Regions from separate parts of the Homo sapiens genome. Here all the other regions are linked to region 2. The links come from fine-mapping of genetic effects on gene expression. A gene starts in region 2. Each other region holds a variant in brackets. All regions are shown on one strand. Distances are between the middles of the regions.

The links. PIP is the estimated chance that this variant, and not a neighbour inherited with it, causes the effect.
Region 1: its variant is the best candidate, but not a certain one, in a credible set for the expression of COL6A5 in lung (TOPMed, PIP 0.70).
Region 3: its variant is the best candidate, but not a certain one, in a credible set for the expression of COL6A5 in testis (GTEx, PIP 0.75).

The regions. Positions count from the first base shown.
Region 1 is chr3:130,516,314-130,521,544 of GRCh38, forward strand. COL6A6 (collagen type VI alpha 6 chain) reads left to right here and starts at 864. Exons shown (of 37, transcript NM_001102608.3): 1 at 864-1,084. The variant C/A (reference allele first, on the strand shown) is at 3,025.
Region 2 is chr3:130,343,214-130,348,444 of GRCh38, forward strand. COL6A5 (collagen type VI alpha 5 chain) reads left to right here and starts at 2,459. Exons shown (of 41, transcript NM_001278298.2): 1 at 2,459-2,768.
Region 3 is chr3:130,387,223-130,392,453 of GRCh38, forward strand. COL6A5 (collagen type VI alpha 5 chain) reads left to right here. Exons shown (of 41, transcript NM_001278298.2): 6 at 1,358-1,912; 7 at 3,957-4,532. Among named protein-coding and RNA genes, the nearest start is that of COL6A5, 44 kb to the left of the region's middle. The variant G/A (reference allele first, on the strand shown) is at 2,809.

The DNA.
Region 1 (5,231 bases), 170 kb after region 2:
CAGAGAAGCTTCTTTTGGCCTTCCAAGGTTGAGTTGGGATCCCCTCTTCTGGGTTCCTATGGCATCATTTCCCCATTCAGCAATTGCCACACTGCTTTTTGTTTCCTTGTCTATCTCCCTAACCAAACTGTGAGCTAAGGTGTCGACTTTGCTGTTTTTTTTTTACCCCAAGCATCTGATAGTAGTGCATAGTAGGTGCTCAAATATTTGTGGAATCAACAACAACAAAAAATAGATAGATGAGTGAATGGACAGATAGCGAGAAGAGAAAAAGGTCAGTAGACAAAGAGTCAAGGATATTCTCCTTGGGACTCCTGAATTCGGACCAGAGAGTAGGGAAACTGGGGAGGTAGGGGGCGTTGAGGGTGGGATGAGGTGGTGGCTCTGGACCTTAATCTCACGGTCTTCGTTCCCACGGAAAAGGGAGGAGTTTCTACAACCCAAAGACTCTCTCTGGCTCCCTTGCTAGATCCTGCCTTCTGCCAGAAGACCCCAGAATACAGGCAAAGCCGCCAAAGAACAACAGTTCCAACGGTAGGAGCAGAGCTACTGCCTTCAGTGCGCCTCGGATCTGCACGCCCTGCCTATCTTTGGGGTACAGAGAAGGCGCGTACCATGAAAGCCCCAACTTCCCCTCTTTCTTTTCTCCCACGGTCGGGACCTTAGGGTAGGAGTTTCAAGAGGGGAGAAGCCGGTGGAGCAGTAACAGCCTTCATAATGTCTCCAGTCCCGCTTCCGTCACCTCCCTAAGGCTGCGCCCCCCTCCTGGGGGACGTGCGCTGGGCCCGGGGCCGCCGGGGCGGGGAAGGGTCGGGCCCGGGGCGGGGAGAAGCGTTTATATGTCGGCGAGGGGCGTGGGAGCTGCCACCCGCTTGCCTGCGGGACACCGGAGTCAAGAGGCTGCCCACGCCGCTGCCTGTCCGTTCCACGGTTCCGAGGTCTCCACCGTCTCCCCGCGCGCCGCAGGCGGCACCAAACTCTGCGCTCCCCGCGGTGCGCCCTGCCCGCGCAGTGCGCGTCCAGAGGAAATCCGCCCCGGGCTTTCGAAGTGCAGGGCTGGGGGCTGCATGGAAGTTTCCCCAAGGTAAGTCCAGGAGCCAACGCTGGGACAGCAAGAGCCAAAACTAGGTTTACAAGTGATCAGTAGTTGGATGGGAGGGACCGGCCAGAATAGAGGAGGCTGCATGAGAAAGACTGCGGTGGAGGGAAATAAGTGAATTTCAGAAGCTCAAAAACTCCTCCTTTGGCTTTTCTCCTCCTCCAAACAAGAGTAACTGCCCTCACCTCGTCTTTCTTTTAATTTTTCGCATCCGACTGTTGAAGAACCTACAGCACACTCTTGTCATTCTCTGCTCCCATCTCCGCGTCTCCCACCGCGCACCAGGGCGCCTCCTGAGAGGTGCGTCACCCAACACTGTGTCCTCACAGCACAGGGCCTGGCGAGTGGCATGTACAGTGGACCACTCTCGGAAACAAATGAATGGAGTTAATCAGGGTGAGTCAGGAAAAGTCACTCCCAAGCCTGTACATTCCCAGTCTGTACTTTTGTTCTTGCACTTCACACAAATTTATTAAAGAGGGTTGGACTTTTACTGCTGTCTGAGGGGAGGAAGGAAAGCAGAGAAAATGCACCCTTTTCTCAATTCCCAGAAACATTCTACTCTGAGCGGAACCCCAATTACCTGGCTCAGTATCAACCATGCAAGTAATTTTGAAGAGGAGAGGAGGCAGGCTGGAAGAGGAAAAAAAATGTTAAAACTAGGAAGTGATTTTCTTTTCTTTTTTGTCCTTTTGTGACAAGGATTTCTCATTCTCTTGTTAAAAGTCTACTCTATGGATATATTTAAAGAGGACCTTTTGCCAGTGGATGGGTGTGGGGGTGATAGGAGAGAGGGGTGGTGACGGTGATTAGGAATATCTGAGACAGTAAAAATCCTAACACTTGTGGCAGGAAGGATAACAGCAGTTTTCTGTTAAGAATTCTATAGTTACAGAATTCAGCAGTCATGTTACTTTTTCTAAACTAATCTATTTAATGAGTAGTATTTTTAATATAAAATGTTCAATGTTAAATTTATTGTTCAGTGTCTTCATAGAGGAAGTCACTTACATAAAAATCCTGAAACTTCTAAATAATGTTCTTTAAAATACACAGCCTTAATAGTTCTTGTCTTTATAAAAGAGGTTGTCAATTAATTTCTCCTTTTTTTTGAGACGGAGTTTCTCTCTTGTTGCCGGGGCTGGAGTGCAATGCGCCATCTCAGCTCATCGCAACCTCCGCCTCCCGGGTTCAAGCGATTCTCCTGCCTCAGCCTCGCGAGTAGCTGGGATTACAGGCATGAGCCACCATGCCCGGCTAATTTTGTATTTTTAGTAGAGACGGGGTTTCTCCATTTTGGTCAGGTTGGTCTCGAACTCCTGACCTTAGGTGATCCGCCCGCCTCAGCCTCCCAAAGTGCTGGGATTACAGCAATTTCTCCCTCATTTTATTCCAAAATATTAGAAGTGCAGAGGAGAGAAAAAGAAGGAGAAAAAAAATACCGTGCCTCAAAAGAAGGTGTGTTTTGGATGTTGTGCCATGTGAAATCAAATTTTATAATGTTCATGAAAGATGTTAGGTTAAGCATTCATTGGAGAATCATCTTTGGCTTTTATATTTTAGTAATTTAAAAAATTTAATTTTGCTAAATTTTTTGTGAACCAATTCTCCGGAAATACTATTGTTGAATATAAATACTTGCAATTTTCATTTTTTCCATTCCCTTCAGATAGTCTGAATTTCAGAAAGTTTCAGTATTTTGAATATTTTGCAGAAAATATTTATTTATTTGTATAGACAGTATCAAGAGCATCTAATTAAGTCACCAAATGAAGATCAGGTTGTAAAAATTATGAATAAAAATTGGTGCCTTATTTAATAATCTCTATACTTAGTACACTATAAAGTCCCACTAATACAATGGTCTTAAAAATGACTAAAAAGAACTTCTCTGTCAGTAAATATCCGCTGACCCTGGAATTCCT[C/A]AAAAATATGGGTTTGTGAGCTAGACCCCCTGCAAATATATAAAAGTGATCCAGACTAATGATTATGTGTTGTAATCTAAGAATACTCATTCCTACAGTCCTAAGAAATAAGTAGGAAGATTAGATTTTCTATGCTTCTTCTTATGCTTCTAAAAGATTCATGAACATGACTTTTCCAGGATGATTGTTGGCCAAAATTATTTTTTTTCCTTTCCTGACCTTATTGTCGTTATTTAAAGTATAAGGTAGATTAGCTTTGCTCTCCAACAGGTCTAGATTCAAGTTATAGACAAACTCAAACAATGCAGTTACCTCTCTGAGTCTTATTCTTGTCACCTGTCACATAGGGCAGTGATATCTACCTACCTCACAGGGGTGTATGGGGAAAAAAACAAGATCTTCGTAAAATGCCAAGCACAAGTGCTCAATAAATGAGGACAATGGTGATGGCGATGGTGGTGGTAAAGCCATCATCATCATTAGATCAGGCAAATAGAATTGTTTCCAATAATTTAGTTACTATTGAGCCCAATTTTATCCTGTGTTCTGACCTCACTCAAATACTTTGTTTCCATGGAATGTAATACATGATTAACAGGAACGAATGATCCGCCAAACATTGTAATCTCCTTGGAAGTGTTCTAGTTTGTAGAGATCATGGAGATCATTTAGGGCCTGTCACTCTGGCATGCTGCTATCCTGGAAGAGATGTTTGAGGATTGTGGCTGTTTTGCTTTTACTACAAATTTCTTCATATCTTAGGCTTTAGCATTTGAGGAGACTTTTCCGTGAGGGTCAAATTATGCCTGCAGGTAGGAGGCTTTTAAAAGTGCACTCAGTGTTTTAATTTCTTTAGCTAATGCTTTTGCAATAATAAAAATGTCTTTCTACTTTCAGCAGAAGAGTATTATATTTAGATTTTCTGAATTTTAAAGCAGTTACCAAAAGCTACGCTAAGTTTTTCAAAGGAATTTAAAAGGCATAAATGATCCTTTACAAAATAGTGACTAAAGGCCGACCTTTCTAAATGAAAAAATAACTGAATCTTATTCTCAATTCCTCTTCTGTTTCCTCGCCCTCCTTCCAAAACTGGTTTTTTCTTGAGGTGACCCCAAGGCCTTGGCATGGAAATTTAGAGGAGATTACCACATAAAAATAGATACCATTAGCTAATATAAGTCATGTACAGAAGAAAAGATCTTTTGTGTCTCTTGTATCCCTAATGCTTCCCACAATACCTAGCACTTAGTAGGTATTCAGTAATATTTGGTAAGTGAAGGACTTAAAATTTCAAAATTCTGGCTAAATTATGCATCTCATGTAAAGCTGTAGCAGTTGCACTTTGAAAATCCAATAACATGCAAAATCTCAGGGAAAATTCCTAACGTGAAAAATCTCGGGACAAGATAAAGGAGGCAGTATCATCTTTGTGTCTCTACTTCTGAAGTTCAGTCTTACTAAAACACCTGGTCTATCACTACTGACTCTAAATCTTATCTTTATGAGCTATTTTGATTGACTGACATAACCCTAAAAACTAATGCATTTAACAGTCCCGAAGAACAAGTCTAAGGAGATGTACTCATTTAATTTTGGAATGATGAGAAAATTTTTCCCCAAATGCTCAACTGGTAGAGGGGAGGGAAGAAGAATAGAATATACAAACCAACTTAGTCTTGCAAATGTAAACCTCAGTATTCTCCTTAAGTCACAAAGGCACAAATAAATATACATGTAACCATTTTAAAACCATTTACAGTTAAGGATGTGAACATTGATTTGACTCTAAAATATTTTTGTATTGCTCTAAGTACTGTATCCTACACTTTAGAGGGGAAAGATTTTGCCAGAGTTAGTTGGCAAAGGCATTTGTGTTGGCTTGAAAAACCATAAGCTAATCACTTATTTAGTCCGTTAAAAACAACTTGATTAATGTTTGGTAAGAAATTCTGACTAAAATTCTCCATTATATGCTTCCAAATACAATAGAACTTTGAAGATCATAAGCAAGTCACAGTCATATTTGGCTATTACTGTTTGTTATAAAACAATACCACAGTATGTCAAATGGTCTGTGTACCATATTTTCGTACCCCTACCTCATCCTAAGCCAGCATGTGTAGTTAACTTTATAATCTTGTTTACTTTCACATTTTCTCTGGGACAGCTAGAAACTTTAATGTGAAGATGACATTATACACTGTAGC
Region 2 (5,231 bases):
TTGTTGGACACGGGGAGATGAAGGAGTTGAAACAAGTCTTCTAGAGCAAGCTGGTTGATATAGATAAGTAAGCCACTTTGATTAGTCACAGCCTTGTCCATTAGGAGCAAGTATTTCTTAAAGCAAGTAGCTAAGTCATTTTTGCTTATTTTCGGCATGGCTTAAACATAGAGAAAGTAAAGTATACTATATTCCAATATTATTTAGTACACAGAGAGGAAAGTATTTGGCTTCAGTTATCGATAATGCATTTTAATTGTTAACTTTTTATCTGTTGGTATATAGGCATGACCAAAGGACATTGAGTCACATGTAAGAAAAATGCTATTTTATCTTTTAATAGTTCTGATTGCATCAATGAGAAAGTTAATCATATTCCATTTAAATCATCTCACATCCAAAATCATCTTGCCTATTTCTGATAGTACGGTTTTCACATTTGCAGACATACCATCAATATTTCCCAGTGGGAATCAACGAGTGCAGGGTAGAGCAGAATTTGCTATCTTTTACTCTGATGTTATCTTCTTATTTAAAACAGCTGCAGAAATACAGATTATGAAGGTTGGGTTAATAAAAGGCAAATATAACTAATGATGAAGCCTGAAAAAAAATTTAATGTCTTTTCCACACTTTTGAAATTCTGGATTACTTTTCTTTTATTCAATATCTTTTTATTTTCTAGAGAAAATGGAAAGTGAAACCCAAGTCAGATAAAGTAAGTTCAATTGTGTTCTATTCTGTTAGAAAATTGAAAAGTTGGCACTTTTAGTGCCTGAATTCCTTCAGATATTAAACTCCAAACTTCTACTTTCTGAAGTAAATTAAGTTAATATATCCTTAATAGAATAAATGCAATTCTAAATAGTGAATAAATTTCACATTATGATTTATTTTGGGAAAACCTTGTTTCAATTTTATAAGCAGAAGAAAGGAAAGGAAATGTTAAAATCTGTGGAAAAGTTGTAGATTCCTGGAGCCACTTTTATTTCATGATTGTGAAAGTTAAATCACAAATATATTGCAAGTAAAAAAATTTCTACAATAATACTTTCTAGAGAAGTTTCTAAACAACAAAAGAACCCCCAAAACACAAACCCACAACTTCCTTTTGGCTTCAGTACTATTTGGATATTACCCTAATTGTGAAGGCAAAACCCCACCCTTCTCCTGAAGTATAAAGTAGGCCTTCTTTCTCCCTTGGGGCATTACTCTTGGTTGGGGAAGAACATCTCAATTAATAAATCTTTACACACTGAGGGTATGTGGACATCATAGTAGCAAAATTTCGGCCTGGGCCAGGCATGAATGTGAAATAGATGTATATTTTGTCCCCCCAGACTCTAGCTTCTTGATATTCCAGCCCATAGATTCTCTCTGTGCTTCACTCTGGTGACCAATGGAACATTTTCCGTTAAAACCTGGACAAATCTGAGACTCACTGATACCGAAGGGCAAGTCTTGGCATTCAAATCCAGGATTTCAGGATGTTCTGTGCAGAACACCCCATAACCCTGACTATTCCAAGTGAATTCAAAATAGATAAAATACACTTTTTTTTTAGAAAAACCATTTTCAACTTACATCAGTTTTTTCTTATTAATGAAAAACAACAAAAAAAACAAACAGTTTTTGGTTTACACATATTTGTGTTCTCTTTGAAAAAAAAAAATTTAATAATAAAAGGAGAAAATCCTGAAAGTCCTCATTACACTTCCCTCTCTTCATTCTTCCAACCCACTCTTTCTAACACATATTTAGAAACTTTCTAGTTAACTTCAGAAGCAATCTCAGAATCGGGTTCTTGCTGAGCAAGGGTGAGCTCCCATGTCTTATGTTTCCTCTTGACATTTTAATAAACTTTCATCAGTGTAAGTAATTGTAACATATCTCTTCACAGACAGCCTGAAGAAGCTAGCAGGCTGAAGCAATGGATTGATTGAACTTAACCACTCAAGCTAGGAGTACATTTACTGGCAGGTGTTATACAGATATGTAATATAAAATCTCAACCTGAGTACACGTCCATGCAAACCAACAAAAAATAAGCCATGCATGTAAGAATAGTCTATGCTTTCCAAGTTCTTCACTATGATCCATGTACTAAAAATCACAACTTCATTGTGTTGCCTGCTCCATTTCCCCATCCTGCCCTTTCTAGAAGTTGCTGGATAAAACTCCTGCTGCCTCTAGCATCAGGGGTGCGTTACTTTTTCTCTTGTAGGGCTTCCCCCAGGACTTTGCTCCTCCTTGGGCATTTTCGTTGGGAGGCTGCCTCTGAGAAATTGGGGGACTTGGAGCCAAATGGCGATTCCTCTGTCTAAGTAGTAGAAGTGACCGCAGCTCGGCTGCTAGTAAAGATTGCCCTTGGTTTCTGAGAAATTCTGACTCCCTAAGTTCATTTGGCAGCCGGCGGCTTCTCTGAAACAAAGCCAGCAAACAGCTGGAGCGTCTCTGGACACTCACATTAAAACTTGTGAAGAGTTAAAAGCCCCAGGGAAGAGCCAGGCCAAGGGCACGGGTCAGCGCCGGCTTAAAAGACCCTCTCAGGGCACGAGGCGTTCGCTGCGGGAATCCACCTGCAGCTGTGCGGCGCGGACCAGGGCGTGCGGCGCGGACCAGGGCTTCCGGCGCGCGCTCTATCCAACTGCGCCGCGGGCGCCCGAGAGGCGCGCGTTTACTGCGCTCAGGAGCTCGGTGCAGCCTCTTCTGGAGAGTTGGGGGCGGTTTCCAGGGTCCGGAGTGTCCCCTGACCCCGGGAAAGCTGGGTAAGTATGCGGTGCGGGGACTTGGGGCCTGAGGCAGGCGGGGGAGGAAACCTCGAGTAGACAGGTGGATGTGAGAAGGATTCTCCTTTCTGGTGATTTGCACCTGTTGACGCCCCCAAATCTGAGCTCTAAGGAATTTTACAGATGGTTAAGACAGGTTCTGAAAGGTAGACTCAGAATTCGAAAGGACCTTAGAGCAGTGCTATCCGAAGTGTGATGCAAGGACTAATAGCATCGCCTTGCCCTTGAAACTTGTTAGAAATGCAAATTCCTGGACCCCACAAAACCCTGTTGAACCAGAATCTCTGGGAATGGGGATAAGGAATGTGTATTTTAACAATCCTCCACGGGATTCTGATGCAGCTAAAGTTTGAGAACCATTGCCTTAGAAGTCACTTAGTCCTACATTTGAGCCCCTAGCCCCAATGCAGGAACCCCCAAATAAACAGCAATGGGTGTGTAGGTAATGAGTCAAAGGCATTAGATACTGGGGTGTATTCAGTTATAAAAATAACTTCTAAACACTCTTGGTTTGTGGGAATTCTATTCTGTCCCAAACGAAACTGTGATCTTTGAGATTTCCTAAGAACAGCACTCAGAGCTTCAACAACTATTTCTGAGTTTGTACTGTGTGCAAGTCTCCAGGTAAGGTTCTTTCAAAGTGCTGGAGGGAATTTTGTACTCTCAGGATCCCCAAGCTGGTAGCGTGTTATTTCTCTTACCAGGATCTTCATAAGTTGATGTAGTGCTTCATACATCACATTTATTTTGTTTTTTGGTATTCAACTGCTTGTTCTGAAATTAATCATTGTTAACTCAGGGTGTCAGGTTAGGTATCTTGGAAGATATATATTTACTTTGTGAATTCTGAACAAAAATCCTTAAGAAAAAATTCACACTGCAAGATTTTTTTCCATTTTTTCTATTTAAGTTTACAGTGCTACAATTTACCAATAGAATAAGTAGGAATCCTGAGATTTCATATGAATTAAAGTAGAGAAGATAATTCCCAAGTTTTTAAATAACTCCTTCAGATGAGGCAGGCTCTTCATCACTGCTGAGAACCTGAGCCATTAATCTTTGATGACGAATGAATGGTTTTGTGTTGTTATTATTATTCTCCTTTCAGTGGCTTAACTTAAAATATGAAATCTAAATCCACTGCTGACTTACTTGGAGACTCTGGAGCAAATTTATTTGCAGATATTTCTCAGTTTTCCCTTTTCTTCAATGGGTGGGTGCAGGATGTAAGGTTTTGATAGGGAACCTGCTAGCATTATCTTAAAGTAGTTCCCCGGAGGACCCTGTGTGGTTATGATATTGAACTATTATTAATATGTTAAAGCATAGAAAACATTCAATACAATGATTTTATATTTAATTATTTTATATATATATATTAAGTTAAAACATCTAAAAGGCTTTTTCACAGATTTCAAAAACTAATCACCTCTCTGTTTGAAAAGAACTTTGGAAATGTCAGTAAAATTGGGAGCCATTGCTAGCAATGTTATGAGCCTGTGAAAATAAAGTTTGCCACTGTAAATATTTCCCATCTTGAATCATAGCTACATGCAGAAATTGTTCATAAGTATTCAATGAGCATATGCTTAGCATCCTTCTATAATGAAGTGTAAGGCTGACACATATGTCTTGTTTGCATTGTATTTCATGTTGTGATTTTCCTTCCTCAAGTTCAAATCATCTTCCAAAAAGGAAGAATTTTCAACCCCGGAGCATATACTCAGAATCCTCCAGCTCTGAGAGTGGAGGGCACAAATTCACTTGGAATGTGTACTTTTCTTGGTATTGCAGTTTGCTTTGATGATGCCCCTGTCAATCTTGTAGGATCTCAGATCCAGTACACACTGAGCAAGTGGAAAGTGCAAAGGAAGAGGAGTTGGGCACTGGGCAAAGTTGGGATCTAAGATAAAACGAGATGCATGCCTACTTTATGAGGAAGGGCTGACTGGTGGTGCATGTGGCAGTTGCAAACATTTTTGTTGCCCCATCAATCCCTGGTGCTTTATGATACTTCCCTAAATTCCTCTGGCCTATTCCCTAACATGCACACAACTCACTACCCACAACCATTGCCACTTGCCATTCTCCAAGGAACCATTCTTTTTTATTTTTAATTTTACTTTAAGTTCTGAGATACATGTGCTGAACATGCAGGTTTGTTACATAGGTATACATGTGCCATGGTGGTTTACTGCACCTATCAACCCATCATCTAGGTTTTAAGCCCCACATGCATTAGGCATTTGTCCTAATGCTCTCCCTTCCCTTTCCCCCAACTCCCTGACAGGCCCTGGTGTGTGATGTTCCCCTCCCTGTGTCCAGGTGTTCTCATTGTTCAACTCCCACTTATGAGTGACAACATGCGGTGTTTGGTTTTCTGTTCTTGTGTTAGTTTGCTGAGGATGATGGATTCCAGCTTTATCCATGTCCCTGCAAAGG
Region 3 (5,231 bases), 44 kb after region 2:
GGTTAAAACTTAGACACAAGGCCACAGCTAGCTTCAAGGAAGGCTGGGAAATACAATCTTTAGATGGGCAATCATCTGCCTATCTAAAATTTTATTAACATAGAAGAATGGAAAGATAGATATTCAGGGACATTAAGTAGTTTCTGTCACAAATAGATACCAGGAAGTAGATCCTGTGAATACTAAACTGTATGTAGAAGCCTATTTCTTTTATATGTGTTACATGGAAGAGAATCTTTCACACTTCACTACAGTGGTCAAGGCCACTCTGTCAAGGCCACAAACATCTTCAGCAATTTCTCCTCTCATGACTTTCAAGATGGTTCCATGGCAGCTTGAATCTTAAAATGGTGGTGTAGTCCTCCTGGTGGATCAGAATGTGACCTTACACGTTTATTAAGTAATAGTTAACATCTTTTCATTTTTTTAATATATGGCTGATGCTATGTTTATTTTCAAGAAGTATGGGATAGACTTCAGAATGTTGAGGGAGAAACTGTAAGAGGATGGCAGAGATTACAGATAGACAAAAGGGATTAAGACTAAAAAGATACATGCTAAAGACAATATATTTGCATATTATATATATACACAACATATGTATCATGAATTAATAATATTGTTTTTAATAGATTATAGAAATTGGTTTTATATGTGTACATATGTCTATATTATACATAGAACAATGAACATACATATGTGTGTATATATATGTATATATATATATACGTATGTCTGTATGTTCATTTCCAATCAGTAGGCTGTCTACAAATATTATGTATAAAGGAACAGTCCATGTTGAATGAGTATATGCTTACTGAAGCACTTATCTCTAGTAAAAACTTTTTCTCCAATTTCTAATATTGATTTATAGTGTTTATGAAATCACTTAGAATTATCCCAGAAAATAATGCTATTTAAAAATTATTTGAAATTGTGTTTCTCCAGAATATACATAAAACCCTGGAGTGTTAGTACTATGAGTGCAAGGAATTGATTGCTTTGGCTCTGGTTCCTTTTTTGTATCACTACTGCATCTTTAACACATGGCTGGATGCCTGGCATTTTATACAACTCAAAATTATGATTGAATGAATGAAAGAAATATGAATAAATGAGTTATGCATGCATGCATGCATGCATGAATAAATACACATTTTGGAAGCTGCATTTCTGATTCAAGGTTCTAGTCAACCAGCTTCTACTAAAGAAGCAAATACAATTTTCAAACATAACAACAGTTGCCTGAGTTAATTTTCAATGTTTTCTCATTAATGCATTTGTTTCTGCCTTAATGTTACTTCATGAGAACCTTTCCAACCTGGTTATTTCTGGTCTTTTTTTTTATAACATGCAGGATGTGAAGACATGAAGGCCGACATCATGTTTCTGGTGGACAGTTCTTGGAGTATAGGAAATGAAAATTTTAGGAAAATGAAAATCTTCATGAAAAACCTGTTAACTAAAATTCAAATTGGTGCAGACAAAACCCAGATTGGTGTTGTTCAGTTCAGTGATAAAACTAAGGAAGAGTTCCAGCTTAATAGATATTTTACACAGCAAGAAATTTCTGATGCAATAGATAGAATGTCTCTCATCAATGAAGGCACTTTAACTGGAAAGGCACTAAATTTTGTAGGTCAATACTTCACCCACTCCAAGGGGGCCCGTTTGGGGGCCAAAAAATTTCTCATCCTCATCACAGATGGAGTAGCGCAGGATGATGTGAGAGATCCTGCTAGAATTCTTCGGGGCAAAGATGTGACCATCTTCTCTGTAGGAGTATACAATGCCAATAGATCTCAGCTAGAAGAGATCAGTGGGGATAGCAGCCTAGTTTTTCATGTTGAGAACTTCGATCATCTAAAGGCACTAGAAAGGAAACTTATCTTTCGTGTGTGTGCTCTCCATGGTAAGTGTCCCTGTTATCTGTCAGGACTAAAGGATGTGAGCTGTTGACTTTATAATGAGAAACAGTGAATGGCACTCTGGCCCTGACCTCCACCTGGACTTCAGTGTTAAGTTTTGGTCTTCTTTATGTAATATTAAAATGCCTGTGACCTCCAGGAATGTTTCAGACTAACAATTTTGGCATCTAGTTTGGCACAAGTTAGTATGGCATTGGTGACTTCAAATATGTTCCAAAAAGATCCCAGAATTTTACTTTAAACTTACAAATCTTTAATACCCACATGCCTGGATTTTCCAGAGCCAGTTTTTAATCCCAAATGATTTTCTAGAATTGTTTCTTGGCTATCTATGACCATTGTTAAGCAGAAAATAACTAGAAATACAAATTCGTCTTTCTTTTAGTTAAATTATATCTAGTATCCTAAGCACCACCCACCAAGAAAACCCTGGGTATTTTAAAGATAGTTTATTTTCATTACTTCACATTATTATTCTTAACCTCTATCAACTGGATATTTTATATTTGCCTGTTCGTGTATCCATCCCTTTGAAAAATTGTAATTTGTCACTTTTCTGATTACTTGGGGTCATCATTTTATTCTTACAAATTGTAGTGCTTTTAAAATTGTATTGTGCAACCTTCAGTTTGAGCCTATCAATTTTAATGTCTTTTGAATGAGAGCTTTCTCTCAATCCACACATAGACTAAAACACCTATGTTTTTAAATCTATCATGTGCTATTTTCTGTGTTTTGGATACAACTAAGAAAACAAACCCAAGTAAGTTTGTTTTGTGTTGTTCCTGTGGCAACATAGAGATTTTCATTGGACTTTATTCGTCAAAATTATGCATGTGGAATTTTCAGAAACTTAACATAATGTCTTATAAACACTTAA[G/A]TGTTAGGTGATAGTTCTAAAGTTTCCTTGGTAACAGCTTAATTGGAATTTTCTTCTTCCCCCAAAGATGGCAGTGATTCCAAAACTCTTGATAATGTTGAGAGGTGTACCTAAAGGCTATAGCTTCAACTTTGAAACCTGCAAGGCTCTTCTTGGCATTTCTTCATTTTGATTAATGTAAATGTGGAGGCCCTGTCTACAGCATAACCTGAAATTCAGCTGACTCATGCATTAGATTGTCTCCTAAGTATCAGGTCATGACTAGTCACCAGTTCTCAGTGGGTCATTGACCAAGGTTTTTACAGATACAGCCTGGGGACATTCACAGTGTCAGAAAATTAAAAATTTGAGACTTTATTATTAGAAATAAGAGTTGACAATTAGCTAGGCAGGTGGAAAGTGGAGAAAGCCAATCTTTGGAATACATGTGCATAAGTTATTGAGGGAAGGAAAAGAGTGGGGAAAGAGTCCACACTTTGGAAAGCCAGCCAAAACAGTCATTTGTCTTACAATGTGGAGGAGGGTTTGGGGTCAGGGAAAAGGTGATAGGAGTTTTTGCTCTCCTCCTACTTGGGGCCACTTCTTTCTGAGTTCTAATTCAAAAGGTTAGGGGAAAAAGCATAAATAACTGCAGAGAGACATGATAAACAGGGATGGTTTGCATACCCGAGGGTCCAAAGATACCTGGAGCCAGAGGGAGTAGGGTAAAACTACCAACTTATACAGTGAGCTCCTGAGCTTTTCGAAATAGCAGGCCAGTTTGGCAAACATCAGTATATCTCGCCATTACATTGGCATGGAACTAGCTTCTAACGTTGCCTTTCAGTTGAAAGCCTGCTTAGCAAAAGACATTACATGTCCTAATGAGATATATCAAAATAGAGTGGTGTGGCATAAGGACCAGCAAACCTGGAGTGATATAGATAGGGTACAAATGTCTTTGGAGTCATGATGTAGGCAAGTTGCACTTCTCTGAGCCTTGACTTTTTTTTTCTGTAAAATGGCAGCAGCCACCTCTAAGAACTAAGTGAGATATAGTGTCTGACACATAGTAGGCTCATGGCAAATGCCAGTTCGCTTCCCTTCTCAGCACCCTGCGTAGAATGCACTGCAGAAAGTTTGTGACTCCTGTTTTCATCTTCTTTCAGATTGTAAAAGGATTACACTACTAGACGTTGTGTTTGTGCTGGATCATTCAGGTAGCATAAAAAAACAATATCAAGATCACATGATTAACCTAACTATCCATTTGGTGAAGAAAGCAGATGTTGGCAGGGACCGAGTTCAGTTTGGAGCCCTCAAATACTCTGACCAACCTAACATCCTTTTCTACCTTAATACATACTCGAACAGATCAGCAATAATTGAGAATCTGCGGAAGCGCAGGGACACTGGAGGGAACACCTACACTGCCAAGGCTCTCAAGCACGCAAATGCCCTGTTTACAGAGGAACATGGCAGCCGCATCAAGCAAAATGTGAAGCAGATGCTGATTGTCATCACCGATGGGGAATCCCATGACCATGATCAGCTCAATGACACAGCATTGGAACTGAGAAACAAAGGCATCACCATCTTTGCAGTGGGTGTAGGAAAGGCCAACCAAAAGGAACTTGAGGGTATGGCAGGGAATAAAAACAATACTATCTATGTAGATAATTTTGACAAACTGAAAGATGTTTTCACACTTGTTCAAGAACGTATGTGTACTGAAGCACCAGAGGGTAAGTTGTTACTTTTAAAGTTTCTATGGGGGTAGCAATAAAAGTTTAAACAAAAAGTAAATCATAAGTCTCAGGTCTCCGATTACCTGGATGTTATGGACTGAACATTTCTCTGCTCAGGCTATCAGTTTTCTCATCTCTAAAAGAAATGGGTTGATTGAACAAGATCCCAAAGTTTCCTTCTCACCACAGCATGCACTGAAGAGATTATACAGGAAAGTTCCAGATGCATTCCGTGGCATTTTACTACTCTGTTGCCTTTTTCTGGCAGAAAGGAATTCTTCTTAGGGTCATATTCACCTTACCCCAAGTAATGGCTGCTCATGGTGCTCCATTTGGTTAATGCTCTCAATGCAGCCACTGGACATCAGTTTCAGGTCAAACTCAAACGGAAAGTTTCATGGTTTAAATGGATAGACTTTTGCCTTCAAAGATCCAGGGCCCTCTAAATGAGATCATAGGCATTCTAGAGAGGCATCAAAATTCAAGTGGCCTGATGTGCTTTTCTGGGTAAGCGCCACCTGTGCAGAGGGCAGGATATGAGAGTTGAACGTAGGGTAATGGAAGCTGGCTGAGAGAAACAGGGAGGGAAGGGAACTGAGATGATTACCAGCTACCATTGGGGTTGGTAGGCTGGAGACATCACATTTGAGTGAGGACAGGGTGACACTTGCCACTTGTGGTCTTAAAAGCAGTAGA